Regions from separate parts of the Homo sapiens genome. Here region 1 is linked to region 2. The links come from fine-mapping of genetic effects on gene expression. A gene starts in region 2. The other region holds a variant in brackets. All regions are shown on one strand. Distances are from middle to middle.

Region 1 (4,388 bases), 240 kb before region 2:
ACCTGATCTCAGGTGGGCCTGGAATTTACCATCTCATTAGCTGTCCCGGTGATTCAGACTGAAAACCTCGGAAGCAGCCCCACACCTTCATTTTGCATCCAGTGAGTAAACCAGAGCCTGACAGGTGAAGATACTGCCTGTAATGGCCGAGCTGGGCTGAGAGCCCAGGATCACTGCTAATCCAGAGTTAGTCACTCCACTCAACACTGCTGCCCTGCTCTCTTTCCTCTGACTGTGCAGACCAAAGTCTAGGTCCTGGGCATTCGGCCCTGGCAGTCAGGCCAGTGGGCTGGCATTACTGTAGAAGAGGTGAATTCAGGAATTGGAAACTGAAGTCTGCAGCTGGCCCCTGGAGGCTGTTTCTCAGTGTTTTCAGCCTGTGGCTTCCTTGTGAACAATTCTCTCCTCCATCCAGTACCCCTCCGGTAGGCCTAGCTGTCACCCTTAGCCCTGGTCCCAGCCCGTGCCCCAGTCCTGCACTCAAGTGCATCTCCATAAACACCCACATCACACTCTCTGACCTCCCTTTGCCGCCATAGGGGTCTCAGGCCACCCCACCCTCCACTCCCTGCATCAAAAAGTAAGTAAAGATGAATGAGGAACATGTTTGAGCACAGGAAGAGCCCTGAAACCAGCACTGCAGGACCCAAGTTCCAGCCTTGTGTGACTTTGAACAAGTCACTGACCCTCTCTGGACTGTGCACTTGTCCCTTTGGCTTCCCATTCTGGCTTGGTCTACCCCACCCATAGGCCGCAGGGAAGACAGATGAGAAGAAAAATCCACCCCTCCCCACTGGGCTAAGGTGACCTCTGCTTTTGCTTACAATTTCATTCCCAGTACAGTGCTACCCCATGGAAGGTACTCAGTATTTGAATTATAGATAAATGTGAATTTAGAGACACAGAAACACTGGTAATCAGGGGAAGCACTTGAGCTGAAAAGGCCCCTCGAGGCTACATTTCCTACCAATGAGTTGCAGTGAACTCCTTCCCTGAATACTTTCAATAAACCCTACTTTGCACTTGAGGGTCTGATTATAATCAATAAAGCCCTAGAACGTGGTCTTGGCCTCCTCACCTGTAAAATGATAAACTAGATAAGATGGTCCCTCCTCCTTTCTCTACCTTTTCTCTGAAACTTTCTCCCACCCATTCCCACTCGTTATCCAGCTGGTATCTGCCCTCCTGAGCCCTCTGCCCCTCTGCAGAGGCCCTGCCCACATTTTTCCTCTGTCCGGACTTGGGTATGTCCCCACCTCTTTCCTTGTGACCTTGTGGGCTGGGAAAAAGGAAAGAAGCTGGATATTCTTTAGTTTCTACCTCCTCCTCTCAACACAGGTGGCCTTTTCAATCCTTCCAGCTACCAGTCAGTCCACAAGCACTTATGGGACACCAGACCTTGCCTGGAGCAGCCTTGGGGAATCAAATAGGAGCCAGTCCCTGCCCTCCAGAAACTGTGTGTCTGGGGGAGAAGATCACACACAGGAAAATCAAGTGGTGACAAGAGGTGCCATGAGACAGTATATAGTTCATTTCCCCACCGCAAGAGTAAAGGGCTTAGGGTCAGAGGCTTTGGTGCCTGAGTTCTGACTCTGCCAATTATTAGCATTGGGACCTCAGGTAAGTTACAGATCTGAGCTGTAGTATCTTGTCTATAAAGTGGGGAAAACAGGGACCCTCGTAAAATACAAAATCACCATTAGACCAACATTATAGTAATAACTACTGCAGGCAAGATCTGCTGGTGGATCTAAATTCAGTGGACAGGAGTTAGAGAAGAAATAGGCTATTCATAGTCTCAAAGTATCTCCCTCAGGGTGCTTACCAGTTATGAAAAGAAAAACAATAATTTTACTATGGAGAATCCTACCAGATACCACCTTAATCAAGTGATCAAGGTTGACACAACCTGTAGTAAGACAAATCAGCATGAGGTACCTGCTAGTGATAGGGACAGGAGGCAGAGAAATTCTAGGCAGAAAAGAGCGGGTCCCAGCGAAAACCCCACCCTCAAGCTGAAAAGCCTGAAACCATGGCCCAAAGTGAGAATTTCTATTCCTGTTTTCCCACTCAAATGTTG[C/T]GTTTTCCTAAATCACCCATGGCCCTGCCCCACCCCATCCTGTGCCTATAAAAACTCCAGACTCAGCTGGCAGAGAGGAGAAGCAGCGGGACATCAGGACTATGGCTGGACGTCAGAGAGAAGCAGCTTAACTTCAGAGGTGCAGCTTGATGGTGTAACTTAGGAGAAGAATCTGACTGGAGACGGCCAGACTTCAGAAGAAGATGACCTACCCCCCCATCCCCTTTTCAGCTTCCCTTCCCGCTGAGAGCCACTTTTATTGGCAATAAAATCCTCCACATTTACCACCTTTCAATGTGTTCATGTGACTTCATTATTCCTGGACACCGGACAAGAGCTCAGGGGCCACAGGTGTGGATATGAAAGGCTGCCACACTGGCCCTTTGCCCTCACTGGTGGAGGGCAGCTGCCCCATGCGACGAGGTAAAGGGCCCACTGAGCTGTTAAAACTTAAGCTGTCTGTGGACAGCAGAGCTAAAAGAGCACTGTAACACGCCCTGTGGGGCTTTTGGGGGTCACAGCCCCCATCTGGATGCTGCTGCAGGGCCCTCCTACTGGCACCAAAGCAGCCGGCAGTTCCAGCACTCGTGCACTCCAGTTCCCACCTCATTCACTTGTGTGCTACCTCCTGTGAGGAGTTGAGCGCAGCGGGCTGAGTAAACAAGGCACCCCTGTCACGAGTCCCACAGAGGGGTCAGGGAAGTATCCTGCTTCATCAGTATGACATACCGAGAAAGACAAAACTTCACTTCTGTGGTATTCTTGCCAAAAGTGCATAACCTCCATCTAACTGTAACTGCCCAATGGGTTCACCTTGCCTGCTGCCTAGACAGAGCCGATTTATCAAGACAGGGAAATTGCAACAGAGAAAGTGTAATTCACGTACAGCCGGCTGTGTGGGAGACTGGAGTTTTATTATTATTCAAATCCGTCTCCCGGAGCATTCAGGGATCGGAGTTTTTAAGGATAATTTGGTGGACAGGGGTCAGTGAGTCAGGAGTGTTAATTGGTTGGGCCAGAGATGAAATCATAGGGAGTTGAAGCTATCTTCTTGTGCTGAGTCAGTTCCTGAGTGGGGTAGATCAAGTGAGGCAGTTTATTGATCTGGGTGGTGCCAGCTGATCCATCAAGGGCAGGGTCTGCAAATATCTCAAGCGCTGATCTTGGGTTTTACAATAGATATGTTATCCCTATGAACAATTTGGGGAGGGTCAGAATCTTGTAGCCTCCAGCTGAATGACTCTTAAGCCATAATTTCTAATCTTTTGGCTAATTTGTTAGTCCTACAAGGGCAGTCTAGTCCCCAGGCAGGGAGGGGATTTGTTTTGGGAAAGGGCTGTTATGGGTCTTTGTTTCAGAGTTAAACTATAAACTAAGTTCCTCCCAAAGTCGGTGAGGCCTACAATTAGGAATGAACAAGGACAGCTTGGAAGTGAGAAGCAAGATGGAGTTGGTTAGGTCAGATCTCTTTCACCGCCTCAGTTATAATTTTGCAATGGCAGTTTCATAATCATGAGAAAAACATCAGAAATTTGTGGAGGTATGAGTTAATAGTATTGTACCAATATTAATTTCCTGGTGTTGATAATTGTGCTATATTTGTGTAAGATGTTAACATTAGGGGAATGGTACACAGAACTCTGTACTATTTTTCCAACTTTTCTGTAAGTCTAAAACTTCAAAATGAAAAGTTTCTTAAAAAGTGACTCAGCAACCGGGTACAGTAGCTCAGGCCTGTAATCCTAGCACTTTGGGAGGCTGAGACAGGAGGATCGCTTGAGCTCAGGATGGGCAGCATAGTGAGACCTTGTCTATATTAAAAAAAAAAAAGACTCAGCATTTTGTGAGGAGTAAAAGAGATGACACATATAAATAAGGTGCTTAGCACTGACACAGTAAGTGCTCAAGAAGTTTGTTTTAAAGCCCCATAAATGCTCAAGAAGTTTGACCCTCTATTATTTTTGTTATTTGACTTGAAAAATAGTAAGGGTGGCAGGTAAAGTAAAGGGCAATCCATTCAAAAACAGGAGGACTAGCAACAGCAGATACTTAGATGTGGAAAGGTACCCAGTACGTTTAGGTGGGTAGGGGGCGTAAGTTGACCAGACAGGCAAAAGCAGAAGTCTTTTAATTTTTTTAAAATAGGGAAATAATGGGACATGAGGCAGGAAAGGCCTCAAATGCCAAACTGGAGAGCCAGTTTTAGTTGGAGAAAGGCAGTAGGAAGTACCTTTGTTCAAAAGGGACAACAGAACTCAAGAAGTTCCTGCCTTTCAGAAAGGCCCAAATCAGGAGGGGTCCCCACTAC
Region 2 (4,388 bases):
GAGCCTGGGAGGGTGAGGCTGCACTCCAGCCTGAGTGACAGAGAGAAACCCCGTCTCAAGAAAAAAAAAAGATTAATACTCGGTATTCAATAACTATCAGCAAAGCAGGCCAAAAGAGCTGAACATATTCTATATTTAATATTCTTCAATAAATTTAGTTAGTATACAGGTTGTTTTTTAAAATGTTATAGGGGGAAGAAGTAGCTGCTCTGTAGGGCCTCCAGGAGACAGCCTATGAACATGAGGTCAGTGGCAGAACAGGGTCAAGAGCTGTTCTTAATTCCTTCACTCATTTAGTAAACGATTCTAACTTTGATCTCTTCTTAGCTACCTTGGTGTCTAGAAGGAAAAATAAGAGTTTACATCCAAGACAAATATTTCCCCTAAAAAGAAGAGCTGTCATAAGAAACTATCAGTCTCTTGAAATTTTCCACAACTTGAGGAAGATTCCCTAGGGATCCTACTCCTTTATTTTTTTTTAAGACACCATTTAAAACTTATTACTTTTAAGGGAATTTCTTTACAATAAAGTCAGTCTCTCTATTTTTTCTCTCTTCCCCCTCTCCCTTTGGAGTAAGGGAAGCATGTTAAAAGAAACCAGAATGACCACATAAGAAAGTTTGAGAACTTCCAGAGAACAGTAATAAATAGGGTGCAAAAACCTTCTGATCATCATGTGGATTGTTTCTGAAGGGTAACTTGGATGAAAATAATTTATGACCATTTCTACAAATAAGCCATTAAAAAACTCCACACACTTAAAGCCTACTAAAGATGCAGAATATATTATTATATGAGATCATAATGGCTGTAGGTTGTAGTGACTTCGTAAACCACTCAGGAAGGACATCAGAGAACTCTTAATAGAAAATAAGAATCAATATGATTATTACGATTATCTTAACATTTTAGAATTGACTAGCAAAATAAGCGATAACTATGCTGTTTTCTGTAAAATGCACACTGTGCTCTTGTATTATTAGATCATTTTCTTTATTGAAAGTGGAAATTGAATTAGATACTGGATTCAAGCCTTATATCTGTCTCCCCATCTCTCTTGATTCTTCAACATGTCTCTCCACTTTGTCTTGGCCCCCAATGTCTACAGATGGACTCAATTCTCACCCATCACTGCTCTCTCTTCCTGTCCCTGAAAGAATCCTCCCTAGACCCTAACACCTTTCAAGCTACTTTGTCCATGCACCCTGCTTTCCAACCTTCGTAAGATTGAATGATCCTTGTTTCCAGAACCCATCCCGCTTGCTTTCTTTTTATGTTAGCTTGCCTCTCTTTTTTTTCCAAACTGTCTGCCCATAGCTTGCTGATGCGCCTACTTCTCTGATTATTCCTTCTCGGTCTCTTTCCCATTTTACTCTGTTTATTCCTTAGATGCTAGGATTCCCCTGAAGTTTCATTCTTTGTCCTCTTTCTCCACACCAGGGGTCTGTGAACCACCTAAAACTGAAAACAATTTTTTGTGTTTTGAGACAGAACACTTTTTCCCCCTTGAGAAAGTATCTGTAGCTTTCATATTCTCAAAAGGGCCCTTGGCTCTTTTAACAAGATTGAGTGTCCCTGCCCTCACTCTGCCTCCTCCTTTTTGCCTTTGACCACCCTTTTTATATGCTAGCTGTTCCCAAATCCATCTACAGTTCTCACTAGGGGCAAAAGAGTCCGACAGCGAAGAGGAAACCAAGATTCAAAGAAATGTTGAAGACTCCGAACAATAAGAAATTGTACTGTACACATTTTGTGTCTAGCTCAGCTGATTCAATCCCACTGAAGACCAGTTGACTCTATGTTGGGCGGGGAGCGGCCGGGGTGTCGGGGGGTGCCTGACAGGGTCATTACTTCAGGTTGTCAGGTAAGATCCCAGGAGGAACTGGTGAAATAAAGGCTATGCGCAAAAACCCTAGTTGCCAGTGGCGGAGGAGAGGGCGCGCCCAGGTCCTGGCGGAGATGAGAACAGGAGAGAAACCCACAGGCAGCTGCACTGCCCACAGCTGCAGCGAAGCCAATCTCTAGGTCTGCAATCACCCTTAGGGGCCAGAAACCCAGCCCCGCACCAGCGGCGCCTTTGACGGACAGCCACCTTCTGCAATCACCTTGCAGTTCACTATAAACACTCCCTATTCCTCCCGCCTATCGCTTCCCTCTCCAAGCCAATCAGAAGAACGGGCGGGATCGTCCTTAGTCGGTTCCTTCTTTTTTTTTTTAAAAAAAAGGTAGCCTGTGCGTCGCATTCCGGCTTCGGGGAAAAACCACCTCCCGAGCAAGGGCAAGGCGGAGCCCCTGTGATGGGCAGGCAGTTCTACCAATGAGGTGCCCCAGCCGCTGTAAGACCCGGCCGCCGAGGTGGGCGGGGCACGCGCGGGGCCTGGCCAATGGCGGCGGGGCGGTGGAGGTTGAGCTGCCGTGGGTAGGGTTAGTGTGAGAGGTGCGGCGGGGGAGGTAATGATGATGGTGGCGGAGGAGAAAGGCGGGGGAGGGGGTGCTGGGCGCTGAGCGGTGGCTCTGGCAGGGCTTGGTAGGGTGGGGGACGGTCGCGGGGCGATCTGTCAGGGAGGGGGTGGGCGTGAGGGGCGCCGTCCGCCTGAGGGGCTGCAGATCCCGGCTACCGCGAGCGCCGTGGCTGGCTTGGCTGTTCCATGTGGCTCCGGCGGGGATGGAGGACTCGGTGGCGGCGGCGGCTGCTGCTGCGGCGGCGACGGAGGAGCGGCTATGAGAAGGGAACGGGGCCAGACTCAGCCCGACAGCGGGATTAGAGGTGTGAGGAGGGGGCGGGAGTGGACGAGCGGCGGGGCCGGGGCTCGGGGTCCGGGCTGGGGTCTTCTGGTATCGCCTGGGTGACAGGGACCGCGGACGAGCCACCGCCTGTCTCCGCTGGGGGGCAGGGGTCTGGGCTCCGTGCGTGAGGAGACTGGGCTCCGGCGGACTGTTTCCCTGAGGATGGGGGAGGGAGGCACCGCACCCTGCACAGTCCACTTGCCCCGCTGGTCATTGCTTCACCCCCAGGCAGGAGTTTCCATTTCCCTCCGGTTGGCAGCGAAGGAGCCCAAGTGGCCTGGAGCCGGGACATTGCCCTCTCTCTGCCTGGAGATTTCCCTCCACTCCTCGTTCCCCATCCATTTCCTCCCTCCGACTGAAAAATAGCATTCCTCCTGGCTCCCTAATTTGTTCCAAGCACATATTGTCGGACTTGAGGCTATTAATTATCGACTGAAAAACAAAGTTTATTAAAAAATACTCCACTTCTCCCTCTTTCTGGCGGTGGACATTAAACAGCATCCCTAGACTTTCCCGCTCTGCTCGCCCTTCAGTGATGCTAACAGGGGGAGGTAGGGCCCCGAGTTACCGTCTCTCTGGATTGTTGTTGGTGCTGACTACCTGATGTGTCGCTCCACGTCTTCGGTGTGAATTGTAATTTCTTCCTTGGTGTCTTGCATCCTTGATGTTACTGGCTTTTGAGGTCAGTGTTTTGTTTCATTGTTTAAAAGACATGCAGAGAACTGGGATGGTCTTTTGCAGCGTTATTTAACATGGGTGGTTAGTCATTTCTCATGATTCTCTCCTCATATTCTTTCTCTTTTTGTCTTTGTTTTGCTTTTCAGCCCTCCAGAATACCCATCATATAGCCCCTGAGGTGGCATGGTGATGTCTCCATGAGGGAACCCCTTCCCACTCATCCTGTCACGTATATCATAGTGTTCTTGACTGGGCCATTCATCTAAGATGGGATTTACCCTGTGAAACAGGGAGAAGACTTATGGACCCCAAGCATCATTTCGAGTTGTAGTTGAGTTTTTAAAAGACATACATGCAAAGTTCCTTTGCTTTGGACCCTCTGCATTATTAAAGCTGCTGTATTGCTAACCCAGAACTGCTCCAGTGTCTTGACTGATCATCATGGCTTCAGTTTGGAAGAGACTGCAGCGTGTGGGAAAACATGCATCCAAGTTCCAGTTTGTGGCCTCCTACCAGGAGCTCATGGTTGAGTGTACGAAGAAATGGTAAGATGTACCTGGAGGTAGATTTTGCTGTGCTGTGGCCTAAGCATACTGTGGCCTAAACTCTGGGTCTTCTGATAGTATATTTACCTTTCTATAGTGCACTAGTGTGTAGAAGCTGGGTGGGGCGCAGATAACTCTAACAAGTACTGTGCTGTGCACTGTTGCTGCTAGTACCATCCCTGTGGATTTTAATTACTGCGCTTCAGTATGGCTCAGAGGACTGTAACTGTGAGAGCACACTAAATACAATAGATTTGGTTTTGAGGTTATTCATCATTAGTGTTAAAATAACTTTGATTTTTGTAATTTTAAGGAGACAAAGAATGGCTACTGAAATATTGTGAGCATTAATCCGTATATTTTAATATAACAGGCATA

What was found. PIP is the estimated chance that this variant, and not a neighbour inherited with it, causes the effect. A credible set is the group of variants that fine-mapping cannot tell apart.
Region 1: its variant is the best candidate, but not a certain one, in a credible set for the expression of EHBP1 in esophagus mucosa (GTEx, PIP 0.70).

The regions. Positions count from the first base shown.
Region 1 is chr2:62,461,699-62,466,086 of GRCh38, forward strand. LOC105374764 (a long non-coding RNA gene) reads left to right here. Exons shown (of 6, transcript XR_002959390.2): 5 at 1,339-1,620; 6 at 2,141-2,369. It also overlaps a transcript of TMEM17 not described here. Among named protein-coding and RNA genes, the nearest start is that of TMEM17, 42 kb to the right of the region's middle. The variant C/T (reference allele first, on the strand shown) is at 2,081.
Region 2 is chr2:62,703,286-62,707,673 of GRCh38, forward strand. It overlaps EHBP1 (EH domain binding protein 1), which reads left to right and starts at 2,428. Exons shown (of 23, transcript NM_001142616.3): 1 at 2,428-2,767; 2 at 3,612-4,010. The coding sequence starts at 3,907. RefSeq lists an enhancer at 2,135-2,274 and silencers at 2,305-2,564, 2,685-2,764.